Homo sapiens: one gene and its partners. The protein of the gene in region 1 purifies or fractionates together with the protein of each later gene. This does not show direct contact. Each region holds a gene or a part of one and is shown on either strand. Other genes may lie near its edges.

Evidence for each region.
Region 2: the proteins of MYL10 (region 1) and MIPEP purify together in Homo sapiens (affinity purification with mass spectrometry; one large-scale study listed by BioGRID and IntAct). This does not show direct contact.
Region 3: the proteins of MYL10 (region 1) and TARS2 purify together in Homo sapiens (affinity purification with mass spectrometry; one large-scale study listed by BioGRID and IntAct). This does not show direct contact.
Region 4: the proteins of MYL10 (region 1) and ACSF3 purify together in Homo sapiens (affinity purification with mass spectrometry; one large-scale study listed by BioGRID and IntAct). This does not show direct contact.
Region 5: the proteins of MYL10 (region 1) and D2HGDH purify together in Homo sapiens (affinity purification with mass spectrometry; one large-scale study listed by BioGRID and IntAct). This does not show direct contact.
Region 6: the proteins of MYL10 (region 1) and PRORP purify together in Homo sapiens (affinity purification with mass spectrometry; one large-scale study listed by BioGRID and IntAct). This does not show direct contact.
Region 7: the proteins of MYL10 (region 1) and MTO1 purify together in Homo sapiens (affinity purification with mass spectrometry; one large-scale study listed by BioGRID and IntAct). This does not show direct contact.

The regions. Positions count from the first base shown.
Region 1 is NC_000007.14:101,619,107-101,623,048, reverse strand, and holds part of MYL10 (myosin regulatory light chain 10), read left to right. Parts: coding exon 1-52; intron 53-848; coding exon 849-953; intron 954-3,942.
Region 2 is NC_000013.11:23,729,444-23,732,597, reverse strand, and holds the end of MIPEP (mitochondrial intermediate peptidase), read left to right. Parts: intron 1-2,152; coding exon 2,153-2,250; 3' UTR 2,251-2,409; downstream 2,410-3,154. UniProt on the Homo sapiens protein: Cleaves proteins, imported into the mitochondrion, to their mature size.
Region 3 is NC_000001.11:150,497,232-150,501,173, reverse strand, and holds part of TARS2 (threonine--tRNA ligase, mitochondrial), read right to left. Parts: intron 3,645-3,942; coding exon 3,427-3,644; intron 2,673-3,426; coding exon 2,510-2,672; intron 2,278-2,509; coding exon 2,140-2,277; intron 1,959-2,139; coding exon 1,881-1,958; intron 1-1,880. UniProt on the Homo sapiens protein: Catalyzes the attachment of threonine to tRNA(Thr) in a two-step reaction: threonine is first activated by ATP to form Thr-AMP and then transferred to the acceptor end of tRNA(Thr). Also edits incorrectly charged tRNA(Thr) via its editing domain.
Region 4 is NC_000016.10:89,152,429-89,156,752, forward strand, and holds the end of ACSF3 (malonate--CoA ligase ACSF3, mitochondrial isoform 1 precursor), read left to right. Parts: intron 1-1,661; coding exon 1,662-1,779; 3' UTR 1,780-3,805; downstream 3,806-4,324. UniProt on the Homo sapiens protein: Catalyzes the initial reaction in intramitochondrial fatty acid synthesis, by activating malonate and methylmalonate, but not acetate, into their respective CoA thioester. May have some preference toward very-long-chain substrates.
Region 5 is NC_000002.12:241,765,239-241,769,362, forward strand, and holds the end of D2HGDH (D-2-hydroxyglutarate dehydrogenase, mitochondrial isoform 1 precursor), read left to right. Parts: intron 1-2,471; coding exon 2,472-2,731; 3' UTR 2,732-3,573; downstream 3,574-4,124.
Region 6 is NC_000014.9:35,265,153-35,269,094, forward strand, and holds part of PRORP (mitochondrial ribonuclease P catalytic subunit isoform 1 precursor), read left to right. Parts: intron 1-1,574; coding exon 1,575-1,723; intron 1,724-3,942.
Region 7 is NC_000006.12:73,482,237-73,486,178, reverse strand, and holds part of MTO1 (5-taurinomethyluridine-[tRNA] synthase subunit MTO1, mitochondrial), read right to left. Parts: coding exon 3,935-3,942; intron 3,731-3,934; coding exon 3,559-3,730; intron 1-3,558. UniProt on the Homo sapiens protein: Component of the GTPBP3-MTO1 complex that catalyzes the 5-taurinomethyluridine (taum(5)U) modification at the 34th wobble position (U34) of mitochondrial tRNAs (mt-tRNAs), which plays a role in mt-tRNA decoding and mitochondrial translation.

The DNA of each region.
Region 1 (3,942 bases):
CGTGATGGCTTCATCGACAAAGAGGACTTGAGGGACACCTTTGCCGCGCTGGGTGGGTGAGCCAGCAGCCGGGGGAGATTAGGGCCAGGCCAGCCAGACAGAGTGGGCGGTTGGGGCCAGCAGGGCAGGGCTCGCGGTGAGCGTGAGAGGCTCCTGTGCTGGGGAGCACAGGGTAAAGGCAGCCACTGTCTGGAAAGTCAGGGGGGGACCTTCCTGGGGGGTTGGAGAAGGATTCGGCCAGGGAAGGGGAAAACACTTCAGGGACAGGAGTAGCAGCATGGGCCTGGGCCTGGGCCTGGGCCTGGTGTAGGGGACCCTGGGTGTGGGGAGGGGCCAGGAAAGCAGGGGAGAAGCTGAGTCAGAGGGAAAGACCCAACTCCCAGGTTGAGGTTTCTGATCCCTCTAAGGCCCCAGGGAAGAGCCTGAAGTCGCCTATGCAGGGTTTAGGTGGCAGAACGGACGTAACCAGGCCCTGATCCCCTGGGAATCTGAGTGTCCCCTGGAACCACAGGGAATCCCAGCATCCAGGCATCCACTGATCCCCTCCTGGGGCACAGGAACCCTGAGCCTGCAGCCCCCGTGCACCTCAGCTGCAGCTTCTTGGGCCTCAGTTTCTTCACCGTAAAATGGGGATGAGAGTGACTTGCTCCCTTCTCATGAGGCTGGGGGCAGCCGGAAGCTGACTGTGGCCCAAATGCCCCCTAAAGAGTCCCCCAAAAAGGCGTCAGGGCCTTAGGGCTGAGTGGGGGGCACGTGGAGCAGCTGAGTGGGGAGGCTTTGTGGGATCCTCCGAGGCCCAAGCTCTGATCTCTCTTATCCTCCCTGCCCCCACCTCTCACCTCCCACAGGCCGCATCAATGTCAAGAACGAGGAACTGGAGGCCATGGTGAAGGAGGCCCCCGGACCCATCAACTTCACGGTGTTCCTGACCATGTTTGGGGAGAAGCTGAAGGGTGAGCCAGGCTCCTGGAGTCCTGGAGGGGCAGCAGGGAATGGCAGGGGGACGGATGTAGGAAGGCAGGGGCCTGACACACATACACACCACAGGTGGGAGCATGATGTGGCCCCAGACACCAGCCCCCAGGTGCACGCACCTTCAGGGGCCCTGCCTCGGTTTCCCTCTCTTCACCGCAGACTGGGGTAACTATAAAGACCCCTGCCTTGGCCAGGCATGGTGGCTCACGCCTGTAATCCCAGCACTTAGGGAGACTGAGGCGGGCGGTTTGCTTGAGTCCAGGAGTTTGAGACCAGCCTGGGTGATATAATGAAACTTCATCTCTACTAATACAAAAATTAGCCAGACATGGTGACACATGCCTGTAGTCCCAGCTACTTTGGAGGCTGAGGTGGGAGGATCACTTGAGCCTGGGAGGTGAAGGTTGCAGTGAGCCGAGATCGCACCACTGCACTCCAGCCTGGGTGACAGAGCAAGGCCCTGTCTCAACAACAACAACAACCATAAAAACTAAACACTGCCTTTAACCCCTTTGCCCACCCATCCCACTGCCCCCAGCCATGCTGCCTCCCTACCTTCCTACCTGTGAGCTCCTTTTACCCGCTCTGCACATGGGGCTGGGGGTATAGGCAGAGGGTGCCGGAGGGAGGGTGTTTCCAAAAGATGCTGTGGTCGACCCCTGTGCAGGGCAAGTTACTCCCCTTGTCTTTTTCTGTGGTCACTGGAGCCCCCAGAGGAAGGATCGGGGAGCCTCATTCACAAATGAAGAGACTCAGATCCAGAGGAGTCACGACCCCTGCCCCAGATGCTCCAGCAAAAAGTGGCCGGGATGCAACCTCAACCCCAAACCCTGGCTCTAACCACTGTACCCGCCCGAGACACAGCATTAGGCATGGGGTGGAGGGTTGGAGCCATCTGTGTCTCCTTTCTGTCCTGGCCTCGGGGGAGCTCTCCCATAGTGACATCCTGGAGCTTGAGGGTTCCGTGGTCAGAAGGAAGGGCCAAGGCCGGGCACGGTGGCTCATGCCTGTAATCCCAGCACTCTGGGAGGCGGAGGTGGGTGGATCACCTGAGGTCAGGAGGTCAAGACCACCCTGACTAACATGGCGAAACACTGTCTCTATTAAAAATACAAAAATTAGCTGGGCATGGTGGTGGGTGCCCGTAATCCCAGCTGCTCGGGAGGCTGAGGCAGGAGAATCGCTTGAACCTGGGAGGCAGAGGTTGCCGTGAGCCGAGATGGTGCCATTGCACTCCAGCCTGGGTGACAGAGACAGACTCCACTACAAAAAAAAAAAGAAAAAAAAAAAAAAAAGGAAGGGTCAGCCCAGGCAGTGGTCCCTGGGAAGTGAGCACTGTCAGCTCTGCACCCTCAGGCTGCCCCTGCCAGGCCCCCTCCCTTGAACCCCCTGCCTTGGCTAGGCCTAGGGTCAGACCCTGGCTTCCCATTGACTCCTAGGTTGACCTTGCACAGATTTATCTGCTTTCTGGCCTCAGTTTTTTGGTCTGTAAAATGGGCTTATAATAGTTTTCTGAGCCCGCTGTAACAAATTCTGTGAAACCAGGTGGCTCAAAACAACAGACATGTATTCTCTCACAGTCCTGAAGCCCAGAAGTGCGAAATCTGGCAGAGGATTTGGGGAGAATCCGTTGTCTCTCCCAGCCTCTGGTGGCTCTACCTCTCCCATCTCAGCCTCGCCGTCAATGGCCCCGCCCTCTTCTATTTAACCTCCCTCCACCTGCCTCTTTGTTTATTTTGTTTTGTTTTTGAGATGGAGTCTCACTCTGTTGCCCAGGCTGGAGTATAATGGCGCCATCTCAGCTTAGGACAACCTCCGCCTCCAAGGTTCAAGCGATTCTCACGCTTCAGCCTCCCAAGAAGCTGGGATTACAGGCACCCGCCACCATGCCCCGCTAAATTTTTTTGTATTTTTAGTAGAGATACCGTTTCACTACATTGGCCAGGCTGGTCTCGAACTCCTGACCTCAAGTGATCCGCCCATATCCGCCTCCCAAACTGCTGGGATTATAGGCATGAGCCCTCGCGCCTGGACTCTACCTGCCGTTGGATTCAGGTCCTACTGGGATAATCTAAGATGATCTCTGCATCTCAAGATGCTTAACTTACATCTGCAAAGTCCTTTTTTCCAAATAAGGTGACATTTGCAGGCTCTGGTGGACATATCTTTTTTTTTTTTTTTTTTGAGACGGAGTCTTGCTCTGTCACCCAGGCTGGAGTGCAGTGGTGTGATCTTGGCTTACTGCAAGCTATGCCTCCCGGGTTCACGCCATTCTCCTGCCTTAGGTTCCCAAGTAACTGGGGCTACAGGTGCCTGCCACCACGCTCGTCTAATTTTTTTGTATTTTTAGTGGAGATGGGGTTTCACTGTGTTAGCCAGGATGGTCTCGATCTCCTGACCTCGTGATCCGCCTTCCTCGGCCTCCCAAAGTGCTGGGATTACAGGCGTAAGCCACCGTGCCCGGCCTCTGGTGGACGTCTCTTTTTAGGGGCCACCATTCAGTCCACCACAGGGTGATCCGACCTGACATCACAGGTTTGATGGGGTGAAAAATCAGTACTGTCATGGGTCGTGACCTGCTGTGGGGTAGAGCAGCCTCCACGCACCGTGTCCTGGCAGATCCAGAGCCAGAAGGAAGGCAGCCATCAGCCTGGGTGCGAGAGATGAGGAAACCCAGGGCTGGGGAGGGCAGGCTCATCTGGAGCAGGCTTTGAACTTGGGGCTGTGTAGCCGAATCAGGAGCATCACTGGGCCCACCTCCAGGCAGCTTGTCGGGGCCTATTCCCAGGACCATGTGCGCCTCCTGGAAGAGCTCAGAAGCCCAGGAGGCCGGGAGAGAAGAATGCTCTGTGGAAAAGACATGTGTGACTCCAGCCAGCAACTTCAAAGGAAGCAGACAGGCCTGATTCTTTTATCCACAGGCACATAACTGAAGGAGGCGTGTTAAAGGCCAGTGGGAGGGCCTGG
Region 2 (3,154 bases), on another chromosome or scaffold:
TAGTTTGTTCCTTTTTGTTGCTGAGTAATATTCCATCATATGAATATATTGTAGTGTGTGTATTCATGTCCTATTGATAGAAACTTGGGTTGTTTCAAGCTTGGGGTTGTACAAGTTGTTTCTTTGTTGACATATGCTTTCATTTCTCTTGGATAAATACCTGGGAGTGAAATTGCTGGGTCCTAGTGTAGGTCTATGTTTAGTTTCGTAAGACACTGGTTAAGACCTTTTTTCAAAGTGATTGTATCATTTTATCCTTTCACCACAAATGTATGACAATTCAGGTTGCACACAGCCTTGTCAACATTTGGTGTAGCACAGTGGCTCACGCCTGTAATCCCAGCACTTTGAGAGGCCAAGGCAGGAGGATCGCTTGAGCCCAGAAGTTCAAGACCAGCCTGGGCAACATGACAAGACCCCATCTCTACAAGAAGTTTAAAAACTAGCTGGGCATGGTGGCACACACCTGTGGTTCCAGCTACTCTCAAGCTGAGACGGGAGGATCACTTCAGCCTGGGAAGTCGAGGCTGCAGTGAGCCATGTTCACACCACTGCACATGCTGTGTTGTCCAGGCCTGGACAACAGAGCAAGACCTTGTCTTTAAAAAAAAAAAAAAAAAAAAAAAAAATTAGCTATTCTGGTGGATGTGTAATAGTATCTCATTGTGGGTTTGGTTTTCATTTCCCTAGTGACTAATGATGTTGAATGTCTTCTCAGTGCCTATTAGTTGTGTTACTTATTCAGATATCTTCTGTGAAAAACCTGACCTTGTGAAGGTAAAATCTTTTGTCAATTTGTAATTTAAAAAAACATATTTTTACAATGGGTCAAAGGAGTTCTTTATATTTTCTGGATACCAGTCTTACGTGAGATATGTTTTGTGAGTATTTTTTCCAACTATCATTTGTCTACTCATTGGCTTAATGGTTTCTTTTCAAGAGACATTTTAAATTTTGATGAAATCTAACATTTTTTCCTTTTATGCATTGCTTTCTGTGTCCTAAGAAACTATACCTACTTCAGGGTCACAAAGATACTTCATGCGGTTTTTTTAAGATAATAATTTTAGTGTTTACACTTAGGTCTGTGACCATCTCAAATTAGTTTTTATGTATGGTATGCAGTAGGAGTCAAGGCTAGTTTTCTGCCGTATGGATATGCAGTTCTGCCCAGCCGACTACTCTCACTCTTCATGTTGTGACTGAGCCTGCCCACCTGTATGCCCATGACCTGGCCTGATCCTTTACACACAACAGATGCTTCCTTCATGTTCACTGAATTGCAATACAGGTTCAGAGAACAATAGAGGATTCCTGCAATCTTTTAATGCCTTGATTTTGAAAATGGTTTTACAGAATTCATCTCCCAAAGTAAATATCAGTATATAGAGCCTGTTCAACCCTTCAGTTAGCATTTCCTGCCAAGAATGTAGGTTAAAGCAATAAGGTTAATTGCATCAATCTTTGTTTTTGGCTTCTTTAGAGTGAAGAAAGGACATGAATTCAGCTTTTTATTGAATTCTTAATATATGCTAGGCATGGTGCTTCATTGCTTCTACTACATCTTCTTGTTTGATCCTTATAGCAACCTTGTAGGAAATTTGGATGCCAGAGATTTTAAGTGACTTCTGCGTTACACAGTTACTAAGTTGCAAAGCTAGGAGTTCTCTGGGACAGGGAAATCTGGAGGAGAGCCAATAACTTGATTCTGATATAAGATTTCTATAAAAGAATTAACATCTAATTGATTGTAAAGTGTATAGAACTTGATAACAAAACTTGATATGTAATTAAACTTGTTAAATTGTGAATCATCCCAGTCAAAGATAACTAAAAAAAAATCAGTCTTCTAATATCAGTCTCTAAGGGTATAGTCATATATGCAAAAATAATAGCCCTTAGGAAATATATTTAGGCCTAAATCTCTAAGCTAAGGATGGATTTGATAGTAAAAATACATTAAAATTATAAATAGCTCCAAGGCCCACACACTGCCCATGACTTTATAAAATGTTCTTGCATTCAGGTTATACAGCCAGAGTCTTAATTCAGAAAGCCAGAGTGTTCCTCTAGTGTGTGGATTTGATTTTGTGTCTTTGTGCTTCCTGTTGCCTCCTGGTGAACGCAGTTCTGACCTTTCCTTTGTTTGCAGGTATGCTTCAGAAGTGTCCTTCTGTTGATGACTTCGTAAGTGCCCTCGTTTCCGACTTGGATCTGGACTTCGAAACTTTCCTCATGGATTCTGAATAAAAGAAACACTCTACACCTCTTAAATCAAGGTCATGTAGATAATGACTTTGTTATAAATGCTACAGCTGTGAGAGCTTGTTTCTGATTTCATTGTTCGCTTCTGTAATTCTGAAAAACTTTAAACTGGTAGAACTTGGAATAAATAATTTGTTTTAATTATTCTGGCTTTTCACCTGTTTGGCAAATATTTGAGCACATGGAAATCTCTGACCTAGTAACAACAACACTTCTACATGGCATTGTTAAATGGAGGGTATGGGCATTTCCTTAGTATAACCACTCTCCTGTTGAGCTTTTCCCTCTTTCCATGGATCTTTAATTGGTTTAATTAAATAATTAACTAAAAGCAAAATTGTTTAAGACAGAGTTTGAAGCAGTCTTCAGACAGGTTACACTTATAGTTCTTTTAAGAATGATGACCATTTCTTAAGACCACTATCTAAAGTAGGCTTAGAAAATGCACTTTAAATAGTCAATTACAGGCAACCAACAAACCAAGTGTGGTTTCCAAAATACATGTAATTATCTGTACTGTTTTTTCCTGAATGTTTAGGCAAATAGACTCAGAACACAGAGGACTGGCTTGGCAATGAAGGTAGAATGAGTAAGTGCAGGTACAATTAATAAGTGACATACCAGTGTCAAGCAACTGGTGAATCAGGAAACAGACCATGTCTGTTTTTATCTGGAACTCATTTGCTTTACAGTATTGCATACCATACTGTATTTTGGTTAATATCAGGAAATAAATTATTTAATGGGTTTTTCCCACCATTAAAGTCAAAACCAAATTATGAATTTCCAGTTTAAAAAGGCATCTGCTAACAGCCTCTTCTTGCTTCTCACCAAAGACCAATGATGAAAGGAAAGATTCAAAATACCCAAAACTAGGACACACATTCAA
Region 3 (3,942 bases), on another chromosome or scaffold:
CCACTGCACACAGCCTTTTCTTCATATCTTCAGCCCCCTCACTGACAACTCTCCTCTTCTCCACTCTCATTTCAGCAAATGATCCTGCCTCATGAAGAATTCAGATAATTGATACCATGGGATGGGAAGAGCCTCAACTTCCTGTTACCATGCCTACAAACTTCCTTGCATCTACCTTCAGCCTTTCCTTCCACCCTGGATACAATGGCAATGGTGATCCCTTCTATGAAGGCTTCTCAATCCTACCTTAAACCTCTCCAGGAACTTCCCTTTACAACAACTTCTCCCTCCAAATAGACTTCCTCTCATCATAGCATTTATTTTATTTTTCATTTTATTATTATTTTTCTGAGATGGAGCCTCACTCTGTCGCCCAGGCTGGAGTGCAGTGGTGCGACCTCGGCTCACTGCAACCTCCGCCTCCTGGGTTTACAGGTGCCTGTCACCACGCTGGGCTAATTTTTGTATTTTTAGTAGAGACAGGGTCTCAAACCCCTGACCTCAGGTGATCCACCTGCCTCAGCCTCCCAAAGTGCTGGGATTATAGGCGTGAGCCACCGCCCCCAGCCTGTTTTATTTTTACTTTTTGGGACGGAGTCTTGCTCTGTTGCCCAGGCTAGGGTGCAGTGGTGTGATCTTGGCTCACTGCAACTTCCCAGGTTCAGCGATTCTCCTGCCTCAGGCTACTGAGTAGTTGGGACTACAGGTGTGTCCTAACACCTCACCCGGCCAATTTTTATATTTTTAGTAGAGATGGGGTTTCGCCACGTTGGCCAGGCTGGTCTCGAACTCCTGACCTCAAGTGATCCACCCACGTCGGCCTCCCAAAGTGCTGGGATTACAGGCGTGAGCCACCACACAGGCCTCATTTATTCATCTTCTAACTCCACCCTCAGGCCCTACTTTACTGAAAATGGTCCTTTGAAATCCAGCAGCCTTTTTACTAAATCCAGTGGACACTTTTCAGTCCTTTTTTCCCCTTGGCTTCTTTTTTTTTGAGACAGGGTCTCACTCTATCACCCAGGCTGGAGTGCAGTGGGGCGCAATCTCGGCTCACTGCAGCCTCTACCTCCTGGGACCAGGTGATCCTCCCATCTCAGCCTGCTGGGTAGCTGGGACCACAGGCACAAGCTACTGCACCCGGCTAATTTTTTTTTTTTTTTTTGGTAGACACAGGGTCTCCCTGTGTTGCCCAGATTGGTCTGCCATGTGTTTTCATCCTTATCCCCAGCCTCTGCCTACACTGTTCCCTCCTGAAACACATCTTTACTTGGCCAACACTCACCTTTCAGATTGGAAAGTGATTCCTGCAGGACACCTTTTGTAACCTCCCCGAGTAATGCTAACCCCAGCTAACGTGCTCTCTTGGTACCTACACAGCACAGATCTCGCAGCACTGATATGGCCTATTTACCTTCAGCAGCCCTCACTAGATTGCAGATGCCAAGAGGGCAGAAAGTATATTGTTTTTCTTTATATCCTACGTAAGTTTAAAAATATTTCTTTGTGGCCGGGTGCGGTGGCTCACGCCTGTAATCCCAGCACTTTGGGAGGCCAAGTGGGGTGGATTGCCTGAGGTCAGGAGTTCGAGACCAGTCTGGCCAACATGGCGAAACCCCATCTCTATTAAAAATACAAAAAAATTAGCCGGGTGTGGTGGCGTACACCTGTAATCCCAGCTACTCGGGAGGCTGAGGCAGGGGAATTGCTTGAACCAGGGAGCTGGAGGTTGCAGTGAGCTGAGATCACACCACTGCATTTTAGCCTGGGTGACAGAGTGAGACTGTCTCAAAAAAAAAAATTCTTTGTATCTATTAAATATTTACTAAAACAAAGCAAAAAATAAATAAATACAACACTAACCAGGGTCCCAAGCTTACCTTAGGTCCATAGAAGGCACCATCTCCAGAGTTGAGGTCCCAGGGTTCTCCAAATTCCTTCAGGGCCTGTTTAAGGACCTTTGAAGGAATGAGACAAGAGTGGAATACATCATCTTAGACTTCAAAAGCAACACATCCGGTCAGTCCCCAACAAATGACCCACTCACCAGATGCCTCTGAGAACCTTGATTACTGTATTCTCCACTCCTTCCCACCAGAGAGTGGTTTATCTGCCTCTATTTCTCTACCTCCTACTCACCTGTTCGGCCTGGTCCCAAAGGCAAGGGTCCCCCAGGAAGCCAGATGGCCGGGTGGACAGTGCCAGGCGGAAGGAGAAGCCAAGAACGGCATAGACGGAACGGAGGAAATCAAGACAGCTTTGGATCTCTGCTTCCAGCTAGGGGCAGGAAATAAGGGTCAGTGAGCTGTGAGCCCGCTAGAGATCAGGGATGCTGGCAGTTTGAGGAAAACAAAGGGCAAAAACAGAGAGGAAGCGGAAGCAAGCTGGGGGTAGAATGTAGCTGAATTATAGTACATACAGGGGGCAAATAAAGATCAGGGGTTTGCAGGTTCATAGGGAGAAAGAAAGGTGGTTTAGAAAAGCTTTGGTGGAGCCAGGGAAAGGCCACCTGATCTGTTGTACAGAAGATGTGAGCGTCATCCTGCTGGAAGCACCGCAGTCGGGTCAGTCCCCCCAGACCACCAGAGGCTTCGGCCCGGTGTAGAGCCCCAAAGTCAGCTAGTCGCAGGGGCAGTTCCCGCCAGGATCTGGGCCGGTGGGCGAACATCAGGCTGAGGTTGGGGTGCAGAGGGGTCAGGGCCATAGGGAGGACTAGCCCCCGAAGACTGCTCCTCCACCCAATCTGCTTGCCTACTTTCTCTGCACCATCTGCTATAACCCTCTCCAGCCTCAGCACATCCTCCCACTGAGTCCTGTCAATCCCACTCATCACAGTCTGAGCCCTGAGGTTCAAAAGTGGATTTCTCAGTAACACAATAACAGACATCGTTTACCATTTCCCTGTTCTGTGATGGTCACTGAGCTGAAGGAGGAGCCTTAGATAGCAACTTTAAGGAGACTGAGACCTAAAGAGGTAAAATGAGTTTCCCAAATTTACATGGTTAGCTAGGGGGAAGACTGTAGGCTCAAATCGGTGTCCCAATACTCTTTCCAAGGTGCTTTCTTTTTTTTTTTTTTTTTGAGATGGAGTCTCGCTGTGTCACCCAGGCTGGAGTGCAGTGGCGCGATCTCGGCTCACTGCAAGCTCCACCTCCTGGGTTCACGCCATTAGCCTGCCTCAGCCTCCTGAGTAGCTGGGACTACAGGCGCCCGCCACCGTGCCCGGCTAATTTTTTGTATTTTTAGTAGAGACAGGGTTTCTCCATGTTGGTCAGGCTGGTCTCAAACTCCCGACCTCAGGTGATCCGCCCGCCTCGGCCTCCCAAAGTGTTGGGATTACAGGCGTGAGCCACCGTGCCCGGCCCCAAGGTGCTTTCTATTATTTAATATTTAGCAACCTGATTGTAACCCTAGCTCCCAGCTTACCAGTGTGCAGGGCAGTTCATAGGCTTGAGGGCGAGTGTATCTGTGATATGCCTGGTAGAATCGTCACTCTGGGAGCTGGGAGGCCTGTCAGAGCCTGGGGGCTGCACGGCAAACATGTCTTCCTGATAATGCTCCCAGTGCCCTGACTGTTCCCAGAGCTTCGTAGAAAACAGTGTGGGAGTTTTCACCTCGGAGAAACCACGATGGGCATACTCAGCCTGGAGAGGAGGGTACAGACATGGAAGGTCAGAGTAACTGGAAGGAAAGCAGGTAGGGTGTCAGCTGTGTGATCTTCCTGGGCCCTCAGGCCATGCTGATTGCAACCACAACCTATTAAATACCAGGTCCCATCTCTATGCTCCCCGACTGCAGACCACACAATTGTAGTATTAAAGGTCACCAGCACTTTCAATATTTATGTTTATGATTCCAAACCAGCCCCCCCACCTTTTTTTTTCTCTTCAAGACGGAGTCTCACTGTATCACACAGGCTGGAGTGCAGTGGCTCAATCTCAG
Region 4 (4,324 bases), on another chromosome or scaffold:
GAAACCCCGTCTCTATTAAAAATACAAAAATTAGCCAGGCATGGTGGTATGCGCCTGTAGTCCCAGCTAGTTAGGAGGCTGAGGCAGGAGAATCGCTTGAACCCGGGAGGCGGAGGTTGCGGCAAGCCGAGACTGCACCACTGCAATCCAGCCTGGGCGACAGGGCAAGCCTCTGTCTCAAAAGAAAAAAAAATCTACACATCCCTCACCACACTGTACATAGGACAGCTGGGTGTAAATTACATCTCCATTTAAATGCCTGTCATAGTTTTATACAACTATAAAATATATACGTGCCAAAATAAATTTGATAGGAACATTGGAACCAGGTAAGGTGACGCATACCTGTAGCACTTCGGGAGGATCCTTTGAGCCCAGGAAGTCGAGGCTTCAGTGAGCCATGACTGCACCACTGCACTCTGGCCCAGGCAACAGTGAGATCCTGTCCTAGAAAGAAAAGAGAAAAAAAGAAAAATGCGATTTGGAAATGTGGAGGTCGAGGTTGACAGCGACACCGAGGTCGAAGCCAGTTGCCCCTGGAGAGCGAGAGACTGGGCTGGGCCGACTCCCACCTCTGTCGCGAGAGGCCTACGGGCAGGGGCAGGTGGGCAGGGGGACTGTGCTGGGTCTCTGGCCGCGTCTGGACGGCAGGCGACACTTTCTCCACAAAAAGCGTCAAGAAACCACGACACTTGGTTTCTGGACTTTTCCGCGGAACAGTAACCAGAACAATCGCCATGAAGGTTCGTTTCTGTCATGGCTCAGTGCAGCCTGGACGCCCTGGACCAGCCCCTCCTGCGCCTGGGCCACGGCCGCTGCCTTCAGGGCATCACTGGTGGGCGGCACAACCATCCTCCCTTTGGGGGGTTAATTTCATTTCTTTCCTCCCTTCTTTAATGGTGAATGGAGGAGCACCGAGCACCACTGCAGTCTCAGTTTCAGATCCCAGCGCCTCGTCCCTGCCCACTGCCCTCGGCCCCGCCCGCCTGCATTGGCAGTGCCCTGGCCCCACCCACCCGTGTCAGCACCGCCCACCGCCCTGGCACCACCCACCGAGTTCTCGCCCATGAGGAAGGGGGACCCTGAGTGGAGGTTTCAAACCTTAGGGGCCGTCCCTGCCGTGCAGGGCTCTGTGAGGCCTCTTGCCACATAGGCTTGTGTCTGCAGGACTGTGCGGCATTTACTCCCATCTCAAATACCCCATACAGGGCAGACTGCCCCTGCCCCACCTGCCCACCCACTCCCCAGCCTCTTCCGCACGCCTCCTCTGGAAGGGGAACGGGCCACAGAGTGAAATGGGGCCTTCCAGCTCCAGTGCGGGGACTTGGAAGGCCTGGCCCGGTGTGGGGGCCCCTCTGCCCTGCAGGCCACTCTGTGCAGGCCTATCCTCAGGTGTGCCCTCGCCCAAGGCCTGCACGCACCATGGCTTCTGTGGTACCAGTGATAACACCATGCCGGGCACCTCCTGCAGTCACCACCCCTGGGCTGCTAGGGCAGAGACAGCTGCGGTGGCCCGGTGCACCTGCCTGGCCTCAGGATGGCCGAGGCGCCTGGCAAGGCTGCAGGGTCCCAGGGGCACCTGTCCGTACTGCTGGGCGCCTGAGTTCCTCCTGCTGGGCACTGTCAGGGCAGTGCGCCTCAGGCTGTGCTTGTCTCTGCAGAAATGTCCTGGCCCCGTACGCGGTGCCCTCGGAGCTGGTGCTGGTGGAGGAGATCCCGCGGAACCAGATGGGCAAGATTGACAAGAAGGCGCTCATCAGGCACTTCCACCCCTCATGACCCGGCAGACTGGGACTGCGGGTCTGGTGGGGAGCAGCAGACGTCCCCTTCACACCGAGAACCACGGGGGCCCGTCCAAGACCTGGCCTCCCTTAAACCTGAACCCCCCAAATCAGGTCACGTAGAATCAAGAACTGTTTGGGATGAAATCACCATGTGGGGTCCCCAGCCTCGGGCCAGTTGTTGCAGCTCAAGGAGACCGTCCCTGGTGTCACCTCTGCCTGGTCACCGCCGACCTCATCTGTGCAGCGCGGTGCAGCCAGCCCCTGGCCCCACGTGCTGAGGCACCTCCCGCCCCACAGTGCCCTGCAGTTGCCAGGCTCTCCAGGGCAGGTCCCAGAGGTTTCCCACAAAAAACAAAGACTCCACTGGAGGAAACAAGCCCCTGTCCCACGCCGTCTGCACGTGCCTGTGCCTCACCCAGAGCCAGTGTCTCCCGGCCCACATAGGAGGTCTGGGCAGCCACCCAGGGGGCCCTCCTGGGAGGAGCTGAGGGTTCACAAGCCTCCCAGAACCAGCCCTGTCCCATGGGTTCCGTGCATTTCCTGGTGCTGCTCTTGGAGGAGAGCAGCTCCCACTGTGGGGACACCTGCCACCCTGCACACTACTGTGTGTCCATCAGCATGTGTCACAGAAAGTGCGTGGACGGATGGCCCCGGAGCTGCTCTGCCGTGACCCTGCCTCACCCCCCAGCGCAGGGACTTTCCAGGTCATCTCCACACCAGCCCCTCAGCCGGTGAACCCTCTCTCCCATCACCGTCTCCACCCAGACCCCCACCTGCCCCATGGCCCCCATTTCATGTCTGTGGCTCACCAGCTTTTCCCCAGACCCAGCTCCGGAGCCCACAGGCGTGGCCGATGCAGAAACCTCAGGAAGGTGTGTTGTGAATGTTGGGTGCACCCACGTTGCATTTACTTAGCGGGGCCAATTCAGATGCACAGGGGCCACATGCAGAATCCAGAAGTTTCTGGACAATTTTCAGAAGAATAGGCTGCCTCCTCCCCACAGCCTGGGGGAAGTAACAGTCATCGCCCAGCAGTGTCTGGCCTGAACTTACCCAGAACATTCTGCCCCCGGAATGCACGTCTGAAAGAGTGGCCAGAAACGAGTGTGCCGGGCAGGAGGCCAGCCCCATCTCAGGCTCACGTGCCTCTGACAGGAGACCAGCCCCATCTCAGGCTCACATGCCTCGCGGACAGTTGGACGTGGCCTGGGGCCCCTGCTCACTTGAGCATGTCGCCCACCAAGCTTGTCTGAGGCCACAGAGCAGCGTCCCAGCCCTGTTTTCCAGGACTGGTGGGTGCCCCAGTCCACGGCCCTGCCCCACCCGAACTCCTGCCTCACGGTGTGGCCTTGTGCATCCCCATGGCCTGACCCCGGGAACAGTCAGAGGAAGGGGTCCCGCCCTCCCGCCAGAGGCCTGGACCCAAGGGAACGGCAGTCAGAGACTACAGTCCAGACGTTTGTGTCTAGGCCTTGCTGGTAGCTAAGGAAATGCCTTCTGTTGGGAAAAGGTCAAATTTAACATAGCAAAATTTTTACTTAATTCCACTAATTTTACATTTGCATCTCTCTCCTTTAATCCTGAAACTTTTGATTCCTAAAAAGCTTACATAATCATTTGCTTTATCCGATAGTATACATCAGTATATCATGCTTTCGAAATAATGAGTGTAACTTTCTGCTGACAATACTACAAACTACAGAAAGCCTGGAGCTCATTGACCAGAAACTGCAGAGAGCCTGGAGCTCGTTGACCACAAACTACAGAAAGCCTGGAGCTCGTTGACCAGCCGGTTGACCAGAATACGGTGCTCCAAGGACATGCGGTTGAATGCCGTGTTCTAAAGTCACGAGTGACTCTCCAGCTGGTCCCTGTGCCAGGCTGGTCGGCCTTCGTGCACACAGTCCGCCAGTGCCCAGCCAGGCCCCTGGTTCCCCTCTGCTCCACCAGCCGAGAACAAGCCCGTCCTGGAGGGAACTCATCCTCTCCTCCCTCCCCATTAAAGCCCAGTTTATTCCCCATCTTGGCCTCTGGTGCTGACCTGGCCTCTGGAGACACAGGCCGGGGGGTGCTGTTTGCGAACTCACCGTGACTGAGCTCCATGAGGATACCACAGTCCCACGTGGCTGGCAGCGCCCACCCCACACACCCTGCCCCTTGCTGGGCGGCCCCATGCCACAAAAGTTAGACCCAGGAGCAGGTGCCCTGGGAGCAGGCTGCCACCAGCTGGGTCAGAAGCCCCTCTACATGCCTGGTGCTTTTGACCTCCTAGGGAGGCTGGCTTGAATCTGGAAAGTCACCAGTTCTGACCCCAGCCAGACACAGGGGTGCTGCCAGGAGCTGCTCCCAGGCGGGTGGCCCAGCTTCTCTCAGGCACCAGGGGATGGCAGGACTCCTGGTGACCAGCTGGTCCCCAAAGCCGTGGCACCGCGCCTGCTGCTGCCAGCAAAGTCCCACACACAGCCTGTGGCAGGTGCCGCCCCATTCTTTCTGCCCCTCCCTCATCAGGGGCCAGGGTGAAGCCCCTGCCGCCCTCTGCC
Region 5 (4,124 bases), on another chromosome or scaffold:
AGGTGGCCGCTCTCTGCCTGGGGAGATGGGAGCCCCGGGCTGAGGGAGTAGGAAGAGGGGGGAGAACTTGGGGAGATGGGAGCCCCGGGCTGAGGGAGTAGGAAGAGGGGGGAGAACTTGGGGAGATGGGAGCCCCGGGCTGAGGGAGTAGGAAGAGGGGGGAGAACTTGGGGAGATGGGAGCCCCGGGCTGAGGGAGTAGGAAGAGGGGGGAGAACTTGGGGAGATGGGAGCCCCGGGCTGAGGGATTAGGAAGAGGGGGGAGAAGTTGGGGAGATGGGAGCCCCGGGCTGAGGGAGTAGGAAGAGGGGGGAGAAGTTGGGGAGATGGGAGCCCCGGGCTGAGGGAGTAGGAAGAGGGGGGAGAAGTTGGGGAGATGGGAGCCCCGGGCTGAGGGAGTAGGAAGAGGGGGGAGAAGTTGGGGAGATGGGAGCCCCGGGCTGAGGGAGTAGGAAGAGGGGGGAGAAGTTGGGGAGATGGGAGCCCCGGGCTGAGGGAGTAGGAAGAGGGGGGAGAAGTTGGGGAGATGGGAGCCCCGGGCTGAGGGAGTAGGAAGAGGGGGGAGAAGGTGGGGAGATGGGAGCCCCGGGCTGAGGGAGTAGGAAGAGGGGGGAGAAGTTGGGGAGATGGGAGCCCCGGGCTGAGGGAGTAGGAAGAGGGGGGAGAAGTTGGGGAGATGGGAGCCCCGGGCTGAGGGAGTAGGAAGAGGGGGGAGAAGTTGGGGAGATGGGAGCCCCGGGCTGAGGGAGTAGGAAGAGGGGGGAGAAGTTGGGGAGATGGGAGCCCCGGGCTGAGGGAGTAGGAAGAGGGGGGAGAACTTGGGGAGATGGGAGCCCCGGGCTGAGTGAGTAGGAAGAGGGGGGAGAACTTGGGGAGATGGGAGCCCCGGGCTGAGGGAGTAGGAAGAGGGGGGAGAAGTTGGGGAGATGGGAGCCCCGGGCTGAGGGAGTAGGAAGAGGGGGGAGAAGTTGGGGAGATGGGAGCCCCGGGCTGAGGGAGTAGGAAGAGGGGGGAGAAGTTGGGGAGATGGGAGCCCCGGGCTGAGGGAGTAGGAAGAGGGGGGAGAAGTTGGGGAGATGGGAGCCCCGGGCTGAGGGAGTAGGAAGAGGGGGGAGAAGGTGGGGAGATGGGAGCCCCGGGCTGAGGGAGTAGGAAGAGGGGGGAGAACTTGGGGAGATGGGAGCCCCGGGCTGAGGGAGTAGGAAGAGGGGGGAGAACTTGGGGAGATGGGAGCCCCGGGCTGAGGGAGTAGGAAGAGGGGGGAGAAGTTGGGGAGATGGGAGCCCCGGGCTGAGGGAGTAGGAAGAGGGGGGAGAAGTTGGGGAGATGGGAGCCCCGGGCTGAGGGAGTAGGAAGAGGGGGGAGAAGTTGGGGAGATGGGAGCCCCGGGCTGAGGGAGTAGGAAGAGGGGGGAGAAGTTGGGGAGATGGGAGCCCCGGGCTGAGGGAGTAGGAAGAGGGGGGAGAAGTTGGGGAGATGGGAGCCCCGGGCTGAGGGAGTAGGAAGAGGGGGGAGAACTTGGGGAGATGGGAGCCCCGGGCTGAGGGAGTAGGAAGAGGGGGGAGAACTTGGGGAGATGGGAGCCCCGGGCTGAGGGAGTAGGAAGAGGGGGGAGAACTTGGGGAGATGGGAGCCCCGGGCTGAGGGAGTAGGAAGAGGGGGGAGAAGTTGGGGAGATGGGAGCCCCGGGCTGAGGGAGTAGGAAGAGGGGGGAGAAGTTGGGGAGATGGGAGCCCCGGGCTGAGGGAGTAGGAAGAGGGGGGAGAAGTTGGGGAGATGGGAGCCCCGGGCTGAGGGAGTAGGAAGAGGGGGGAGAAGTTGGGGAGATGGGAGCCCCGGGCTGAGGGAGTAGGAAGAGGGGGGAGAAGTTGGGGAGATGGGAGCCCCGGGCTGAGGGAGTAGGAAGAGGGGGGAGAAGTTGGGGAGATGGGAGCCCCGGGCTGAGGGAGTAGGAAGAGGGGGGAGAAGTTGGGGAGATGGGAGCCCCGGGCTGAGGGAGTAGGAAGAGGGGGGAGAAGTTGGGGAGATGGGAGCCCCGGGCTGAGGGAGTAGGAAGAGGGGGGAGAAGTTGGGGAGATGGGAGCCCCGGGCTGAGGGAGTAGGAAGAGGGGGGAGAAGTTGGGGAGATGGGAGCCCCGGGCTGAGGGAGTAGGAAGAGGGGGGAGAAGTTGGGGAGATGGGAGCCCCGGGCTGAGGGAGTAGGAAGAGGGGGGAGAAGTTGGGGAGATGGGAGCCCCGGGCTGAGGGAGTAGGAAGAGGGGGGAGAACTTGGGGAGAGAAGCAGGGAGAAGCCAAGGTAGCAGCGGCCCCAGAGGAGGGGTCGGCACGTCCAGGGCGAGTGGCATGAGGGTGAGGCTCAGCCGGGGGTCTCGGGGTTGCTGGGGAGGGGATCTTGGGAGGGGCTGTTGGGGGAGGAGTGGGGTCCTGGGGGCTGCCCTGCCCAGCCTGACCCATGTGCCCTTGTCCCTCCAGGAGATGGTAACCTGCACCTCAATGTGACGGCGGAGGCCTTCAGCCCCTCGCTCCTGGCTGCCCTGGAGCCCCACGTGTACGAGTGGACGGCCGGGCAGCAGGGCAGCGTCAGCGCGGAGCACGGAGTGGGCTTCAGGAAGAGGGACGTCCTGGGCTACAGCAAGCCACCGGGGGCCCTGCAGCTCATGCAGCAGCTCAAGGCCCTGCTGGACCCCAAGGGCATCCTCAACCCCTACAAGACGCTGCCCAGCCAGGCCTGACGGCCACTCCTGCTGCTGCCAAGGCCCACTGGGGGTCGGCGGGTGGCTCTCGGGCGGGGGTGTTGCGGTGGCTCTGAGGGATGAGCCGGCAGTGGGCAGGGGACCAGGCACCTGGTTGAAGGGACTGGGAGCCCGCACTGGGGAACTGCCGGACGCAGGCCCTCGGGCAGGAGCATCTGGCAGAGTGGGGGGCGTGGCAGGCACCCTCCTTTGCAGGGCGAGGTGGGGCCTCTGCAGCCATCCTGGACAGGCCGGGGTGGCGGCAGCTTTGCCCACGTGGAAGCGGGGTGGGTCTCACTTGCGTGGTGGCCCCTGGCCCCATCTTGCCTGCTGCGGCCTGGGGAGCAGGCGCTGGGTGGTGGTTCTGCCTGCTTGCTGCTCGTTCCCCGGGCATGCGTGGGCAGCGGGGGGCATGCGTGGGCAGCAGGGGGCGTGGGCAGCGGGGGCACGGGCAGGACCACGTGGGCCGTGATCGTGGGTTGCCGAGAGGACCTGAGCGCTGCGGCTCTGCTGAATGGAGCCGGGTCCCTCAGGCCGTGGACGCCCTCGGGAGGGGGGTGACTGTGGCTTGTGTCTGGACAGGAATGTGTCATTTCCCACATCTTCTAGAGGGCTGCCAGCTGGGAAGACAGTTATCAGGGCAAGCTGTGCTCTGAGTTTCGGGTTCTGCTCCTACAAAGAACGTGCGGTGCTGCGGGCGAGGGCCCCGGCACGGACAAGGGCCACTGCAGAGTGTGTTTCTGCTCGTCAGCTGCCCTGGGCAGCGGATGGGCTGGGCGATGCAGCTGGATGCACATCTCATTCTGTCATGAATGTCCAGTAAAAATCTGAATTGGTTGCAACCTTCTCTTTGCTTCTGTTACTGGAAAATCATCTTTCAGAGCCCATTGTGAAGGGCCTGTGCATCCCATTCCCACAGCCCCTGGACCACTGGGGCCATAGTGTGGCCGGGCCTGACACTACTGTGACTGTCACTGTGCCTCCTGTCCCCATGCACTGTCTGGTGGCAGCTGAGCTCCCACCGGCTGCACAGGGCAGGCCTGGACATGGAACGGGCAACTCATAACCCTTGGTGGCCCTGGAGGCCCTCAGCAGCTGGGCCTGACCGAGGTGTATCCACGGGCCCCTCCTGTCCCTGTGGGTGTCGAGGACCTCGGATCCTGCTCAGAGGGGGAAACATACCTCTGACCCGCTGCCCTGCAGAGCCCGCCTGCCTAGCCAGGGCCTCTGTGTGGACAGGCCACGTCCTCCTGGTGGAGGTCCTCGGGGGATGGGTGGGGGCCTTGGTCCAGCATGATTTTTTTTTTTTGAGACAGGATCTCACTCTGTCACCCAGGCTGGAGTGCAGGGGTATAGTCACAGCTCAGTGCAGCCTCCACCTCCTGGGCTCAAG
Region 6 (3,942 bases), on another chromosome or scaffold:
AATGTCCTGAAAATCTACAGAGGAGGAACTTATGAGTAAAGAGAAGCTAGACTAAAATAAATACCTTTTCCAACCAAGACCCAAGAAAATAAAGGATTTCTGCAAGACCTTTCAACTTGTGATTTTTGTGGGCCCACCAATTCTCATAAAGATCTTTTATATTTCTGATACATGATTATATAATACAAGTTATAATTTTTTCAGCTTTTGTTTTACTTAGTAATATCCATTTATAGCTTAGTTTAATAGGTGGTACATAAAAGTAATTTATGTACTTTTCCTTATGAAAAATTGAGTATAGGCAAGCTCACCAAAGTACTAGACTTCTAAAACCCAAGTCTAGACCTTTGAGGAGTTCATGTGCACACAATGAAGTGGAGGCCAGTGGGAAGTGGAGAGAATGGGGATAAAGTAACTGACTGGAAAGTAGGCTACAGGGTAGAAATCGACAGATCTTTAGTAGAAAAGGGGATTTCAATGAAAGGAGGCAGTATTAGCAATAAAGTCATAACATAGAAAAGTCACTGTCTAGTCTAATCATTTACAAACTTAAAAAGAAGTAGAAGCTTTTATTCAAATCAAAACTTATGTAGAATACCAATATGATAAATATATAAAGGTTGAGCCGTTTGGGTCGAAACAAGGTTTGACATGTATAGGAAACAAAATCCCATCCCTCTTGAGCCTCTCTATCTCTATCCTAGTGGGCCCTAGAGAGCACAGTTTAAAACAGCTGAACTAGGCTGGGTGCAGTGGCTCACACCTGTAATCCAGGTGCTTTGGGACGCCAAGGCAGGAGAATTTCTTGAGGCCAGAAGTTCAAGACCAGCCTGGGCAGGATCGTGAGATCCCATCTCTACCAAAAAAAAAAAAAAAAAAATTAGGCCAGGCATGGTGGCTCATGCCTGTAATCCCAGCACTTTGGGAGGCTGAAGCGGGTGGGTCACCTGAGGTCAGGAGTTCGAGACCAGCCTGACCAACATGGTGAAACCCCGTCTCTACTAAAAATACAAAATTAGTTGGCTGTGGTGGCGCATGCCTGTAATCCCAGCTACTTGGGAGGCTGAGGCAGGAGAATCACTTGAACCCAGGAGGGAGAGGTTGCAGTGAGCTGAGATCTCGCCATTGTACTCCAGCCTGGGCAACAAGAGTGAAACTCTGTCTCAAAAAAAAAAAAAAAAAATTAGCCAGACGTGGTGCACGTCTGTGGTCCCAACTACTCAGGAGGCTGAAGTGGGAGGATTGCTTGAGCCCAGGAATTCAAGGCTGCAGTGAGCTATGATTGCACCTGTGCACTCCAGTCTGGACAGCAGAATGAGATCCTGTCCCACACACAAAAATAAAGAAACCCCCCCCTGCAATGTAGCCTGACCAGCAGGCAGATGTTAGACATTAATGTGTAATAGGGAAGCATTTTCCTCAGGCTTTCAAAGATGGGAAATTATTGTGGATTGTTTTCTTACCCCCTACCAGAAAAGAGTGCTTCACCATTGAGGTGGCCTGCTGGAAAAATCACTCCACTAATTTGAGAGTCTTCCCTTGAACTTTTGTGGTTCTGGCTTTGTGTTTTTTAGCTCTTGAATGTCGTCTCTCAACTAGCCAAACGGAATCTGCGACTGCTGGTCCTAGGCCGGAAGCACATGCTAAGACGGAGTTCCCAGTGGAGTCGGGATGAGATGGAAGAGGTGCAAAAGCAAGCCAGCTGTTTTTTTGCTGATGACATGTAAGTGTTGGAGGTAATAGGTGAATTATACTGTGCTGCAGACATCTATCTGCTTGTTAGTTACCTACTTTAAACCTATCTTTTAAATGCATGTGTATGTGTATACTCACCCTCATTAAAAAAAAAAAAAGATTTGAGACAACTTACAAAACTACGGTTTCTTCTAAAAAAGAAAAACACTACAGTTTCTACGGCAGGATAAACTTAAACAGATGAGGAAATCAGGATAAAGGAGAAGTGGAGGGAAGTTAAGTCAGGAGTGAGATTAGTACACCGAATACATGCCATAAGATCCTAAGTAGATCATTTAGCAAATACTTGACAAACAGGAGCACCTTCTATGTTCTTGGAGAAAGAGCAGTGAAAAAGACAAAGTCCCTGCCCTCTTAGAATTTACAATAAACAGATAAACAAACAGGTAATGTCATTCCAGGCAGTGATTAGTACTATGGGGACAATAAAGCAAGGTAGATAGAATTTAGGTAAGGGATAGGTCAGAGGGTTGTGAATGGGGTGGTCAGGAACAGCCTTTCTGAGGGGGCAGATTCGATGAGGAGTGAGTTATTTGAGAAATGGGGAGAGGTGGTGGGAAGACCATCCCAAATAATACGAAATATTTAAAAAGCCCCGATGCAGGCCGGGCTCAGCCTGTAATCCCAACACTTTGGGAGGCCGAGGCGGGCAGATCACGAGGTCAGGAGATCAAGACCATCCTGGCTAACGGTGAAACCTCATCTCTACTAAAAATACAAAAAATTAACCGGGCATGGTGGCGGGCGCCTGTAGTCCCAGATACTGAGGAGGCTGAGGCAGGAGAATGGCGTGAACCCGGGAGGCGGAGCTTGCAGTGAGCCGAGATCGCGCCACTGCACTCCAGCCTGGGCAACAGTGCGAGGCTCCATCTCAAAAAAAAAAGGAGCCCAAAGGAGCCCTGAGGCAGGCATAAGCTTGGCATGTGTTTGAGGAAAGCAACACGGCCAGTTGGGCTATAATAGCAAGAGGGAAAGTAATAAGCTCTGAGATTAGAGAGAAGGCAGAAACCGCAATGCAGAGGACCTTGCAGATCCTGGTAGACAAGCAAGAGGCCTAGATTTTATTCTAAGTGTAGGGAGAAAATTGCTGTTGAGCTGCAGCTTCCCAGGAAGCCAAAGGAACCATGGTAAACATGGTCAGTAACAAAACCTACAGTAAGCCAGCCACAGTGGCTCATGTCTATAATCCCAGCACTTTGGGAAGCCAAGGCAGGCAGATCACTCAAGATCAGGAGTTTGAGACCAGCCTGGCCAACATAGTGAACCCCATCTCTACTAAAAATACGATTAGCCAGATGTGGTGGCACACGCCTTGTAGTCCCAGGTACTCGGGAGGCTGAGGCAGCAGAATCACTTGAACCTGGAAAGCCGAGGTTGCAGTGAGCCAAGATCGTGCCACTGCACTCCAGCCTGGGTTACGGAGTGAGACTGTCTCAAAAAAAAAAAAAAAAAAAAACAACCCACAAACCTACAGTAGCCATAAAGTAAGAAGAAAATAGCTAATTAGGAGGAGTACAGATCCGCAACAGCACATATGAACTCAATGCACTGTTGTGCATTGAGGTTTTCATATTGTTTGTGCTAACAAAAGTTTATTTCCAACTTTGCTTAATGAGTGTATATGCCTCAGCCCCAAATCTAGGTTTCATAGTCTGAATGTGATAACTTCAAGATTTGTCAGTATTCTCCAAATCATTTATTTTATTGAGACGGAGTCTCACTGGGTCACCCAGGCTGGAGTACAGTGGCACAATCTTTGCTCATGGCAACCTCCACCTCCCGGGTTCAAGCGATTCTCCTGCCTCAGCCTCCCAAGTAGTTGGGATTACAGGCACCCGCCACCATGCCCAACTAATTTTTGTATTTTTAGTGGAGATGGGGTTTCACCATGTTGGCCAGGCTGGTCTCGAACTCCTGACCTCATGATCCACCCACCTCAGCCTCCCAAAGTGCTAGGATTACAGGCATGAGCCACCTCGCCTGGCCCCCAAATCATTTATTATTTAAAAAGTACAGTAGCTCTCAATCATAAAGCAAGGGAGAAGCAAACCTCTCATCCAGTTCCCAAACCACATCCCTTCTTTTTTTAGCTGGAAGATGGTGCTTCCATTTCTCCAAGAGCAGAAGACCTAATGGCAACATTGGGTAGACAGTAAGATTGTAGGCTTGGGAATTAGTTTACCCAGG
Region 7 (3,942 bases), on another chromosome or scaffold:
CTGAGCACCAGAATTCGAGATAGTTTTAAAAAAATCTGTTCACAAGGCTTTGAGCTATTCTCAACTCCAAACTTCAAGAACTGCTTTGAATCAAGCCTAAGCCTCAGAGTACAGAGCTCTGGCAAAGAATGGATAAGTTAGCATACTTCAACAAAGCCAGGAGGGAATTTCTGAGCTACCTAACACATCAATACATTTCTCTGTAATCCTGACAGAAAATGTGTGTGTGTGTGTGTGTATGTGTTACGCATAGGTGCACATGTACATGCATTTGTGTATCTCTTCTGTTAAATGCCTGTTCAGAGTCAGGTTCAACTGGTCAGCGCTTACTACATAGTCTGGCATGTATGCAGCAAGTGTATTTTTAACCGGATTTTAAAATCTTTTTAGCTTTATATGTCTGGGCATTGATCAAGTGAGTTCGCTAAAAAAGGCTAAGGCCAGGCACAGTGACTCATGCCTGTAATCCCAGCACTTTGGGAGGCCAAGGCAGGCAGATCTTGAGGTAAGGAGATTGAGACCATCCTGGCTAACACGGTGAAACCCTGTCTCTACTAAAAATACAAACAAAAATTAGCCAGGCATGGTGGCAAGCGCCTGTAGGCCCAGCTACTCAGAAGGCTGAGGCAGGAGAATCACTTGAACCCAGGAGGCGGAGGTTGCAGTGAGCCAAGATTGTGCCATTGCACTCCAGCCTAGGTGACAGAGTGAGACTCCGTCTCAAAAAAAAAAAAAAAGAAAGAAAGAAAGGCTAAGTGGTAGACTGCAAATATTCTCAAATCAAATATGTAGACTGATTCCTCCTGAAGGGAAATATGCCTGAATTAAAAAGGAATCTGGCCAAATTACCTTTTTAAACTGACCTTTTTAAAAAAAATCCATCTAAACAAAATGGCTACTCCTGGGATTGTTATGGTAAAAACATAGCTGATAAGTTTTCATTGTTCATTTGTTCATCTTTTTATTCATCAGTTAGCATCTGAGACTGCTGAAAACGATCACTTCCCACACTCTCAATATTCATCAATACACATCAGTCACATTCAATGCAAGTTCCTATTACACGAATTAGTGTGATATTTGTTATAAAAGAAAGCATAGTGTTATATAAATTCTTTTTTTTTTTTTTTTTGATACAGAGACTTGCTGTGTCACGCAGGCTGGAGTGCAGTGGTGTGATTTCGGCTCACTGCAACTTCTGCCTTCTAGGTTCAAGTGATTCTCCTCCCTCAGCCTCTTGAATAGCTGGGATTACAGGTGTGCTCCACCATGCCTGGCTAATTTTTGTATTTTTAGTAGAGACAGGGTTTTGCCATGTCTGGTCTTGACTTCTGGCCTCAAGTGATCTGCCCACCTCAGCCTCCCAAAACGATGGGATTACAGGCATGAGCCACTGTGCCTGGCCTGTGTTATAAATTATTTGTCCAACTTTTGAAATAATGTGAACCCTCCTAAATTTAAACAAATGAATAAACAGCTGGAGAAATGAGTCAATTTTAAACTGCTTACACTACAACCATTTCCTGGTGCCTAGTGTAAGCCAGTTAGCTAGTAAACAAATATATCCACTGCTATAGTCTGAATGTTGGTAGTATCCCCCACTTAAATTCTTATGTTGGAATCTAATGCTCAATATGACAGTTTTTAGAGGTGGGGCCCTTAGGAGGTGATTAGGGCATGAGGGTTCTGGCGCTTATAAGTGGGATTAGTGCCCCAATAAAAGAGGGTTGGGGAGCTTTTTGCCCTTTTGCTATGTGAGAACACAGCAAGAAGGCACCATCTTGGAAGCAAACAGCAAGCCCTCACCAGACACCTAATCTGCTGGTGCCTTGATCTTGGACTTCAGTCTCCAAAACTGTCAGCAATAAATTACTGTTGTTTATAAATTATCCAGTCTAAGGTGTTTTGTTATAGCAGTCTGAATGGACAAAGATATCCACCATCCTTATTTGTGAATAAGGCTGTCATTTCTATGAATGAGATCCCCTGATATGAAAGATGATTACGCAAATTCTTTAAAACCTGCTGTTACTATTATTAAAAATCTGTTTCATTGCTGGTGCTAGTGCTTTGGGAAACCCTCATGAAAATAAAAACTTGGGCCAGGCATGGTGGCTCATCCCTGTAATCCCAGCACTTTGAGAGGCCAAGGCAGGTGGATCACTTAAGGTCAAGAGTTCGAGCACAGCCTGGCCAACATGGTGAAACCCTGTCTCTACTAAAAATACAAAAATTAGCCGGGTGTGGTGGTGCATGCCTGTAATCCTAGCTACTCAGGAGGCTGAGGCAGGAGAATTGCTTGAACCCGGGAGGCAGAGGTTGCAGTGAGCCGAGATCATGCCATTGCACTCCTGACAGAGTGAGACTCCATCTCAAAAAAAAAAAAAAAAAAAATAGCCAGGTGTGGTGGCAGGCGCCTGTAATCCCAACTACTTGGGAGGCTGAGGCAGGAGAATCACTTGAACCCAGAAGCTGGGAGGTTGCGATGAGCCGAGATCGCACCATTGCACTCTAGCCTGAGCAAGGAGAGTGAAACTCCATCTCAAAAAAATTAAAAACAAAGGAGTTTCCTTGCTATAGCTCATGGACAAGATCAGATCATTCCACATTGCTCCAAGACTAGAAAAGAAAGCAGATAACAACTTTTCTTGGTTTGAGCCTTCTAAATCTTATGAAAGCCAAAAGAACTCAATGGGAGCCACAGAGAAATCATATAAAAAATAAAAATAATAATTTAGAATATATATATATATGTGATTTTTTCTTTTCTTTGAGACAGGGTCTCACTCTCACCCAGGCTGGAGTGCAGAGGCGTGATCTTGGCTCACTGCAACCTCTGCCTCCTAGGTTCAAGTGATTCTCCTGCCTCAACCTCCCAAGTAGCTGGGATTACAGGTGTGCACTACCACGCCCGGCTAATTTTTGTATTTTTAGTAGAGATGGGATTTTGCCACATTGGCCAGGCAGGTCTCAAACTCCTGAACTCAAGTGATCCGACTGCCTTGGCCTCCCAAAATTCTGGGATTATAGGTGTGAGCCACTGCATCCAGCCATATATTTTTTAATACTTAGAAAACAGATGAGTTAGGCCGGGTGCAGTGGCTCACGCCTGTAATCCCAGCACTTTGGGAGGCCGAGGCGGGCGGATCACGAGATCAGGAGATCGAGACCATCCTGGCTAACACAGTGAAACCCCATCTCTACTAAAAAATACAAAAAATTAGCCGGGCGCGGTGGCAGGCGCCTGTAGTCCCAGCTACTCGGGGGGCTGAGGCAGGAGAATGGCGCGAACCCGGGAGGCGGAGCTTGCAGTGAGCCGAGATCGCACCACTGCAGTCTGGCCTGGGTGAAAGAGCGAGACTGTCTCAAAAAAAAAAAAAAAAAAAAAAGAAAGAAAAAAGATGAGTTACAGCTAACGGATTTTGAAAAGAAGCCAAAAACAAGCTACATTCATTTGAAATGTGTAGGTAGGAACACATAGGTAATGTCTCTATGAAATGATCTTATGATCTTATTTTTCTATAAAAAGTGAGAAAGGTCTATATTAAAAATGCATACCTGACAGGCAGACTTCTACTAGTACTTATAGAAGCCTCTGGGATTAATTTTTTCCATTTAGAGCTCAAAAACTCAATAGATTTCAACACAGAAATGCCTTCTTCTAAAGAAGACTTCATCCAACAAGCTCTTTCATATCGTTGTTGGGACACACAGCCAGCGTCTTTATACCCTAGGGAAGGGAGAAAGAGAATATAATGAGAAGTGTGGTTTTTAAAGCAAATTTTTTTGTAGAGACAGTGTCTCACTATGTTGCCCAGGCTAGTCCTAAACTCCTGGCCTCAAGTGATCCTCTTGCCTTGGTCTCTCAAATTGCTTGGATTATAGGTGTGAGCCACCATGCCTGGCTGGATTGCAGGACTCAGGAAAGAGTTACCTCGCAGT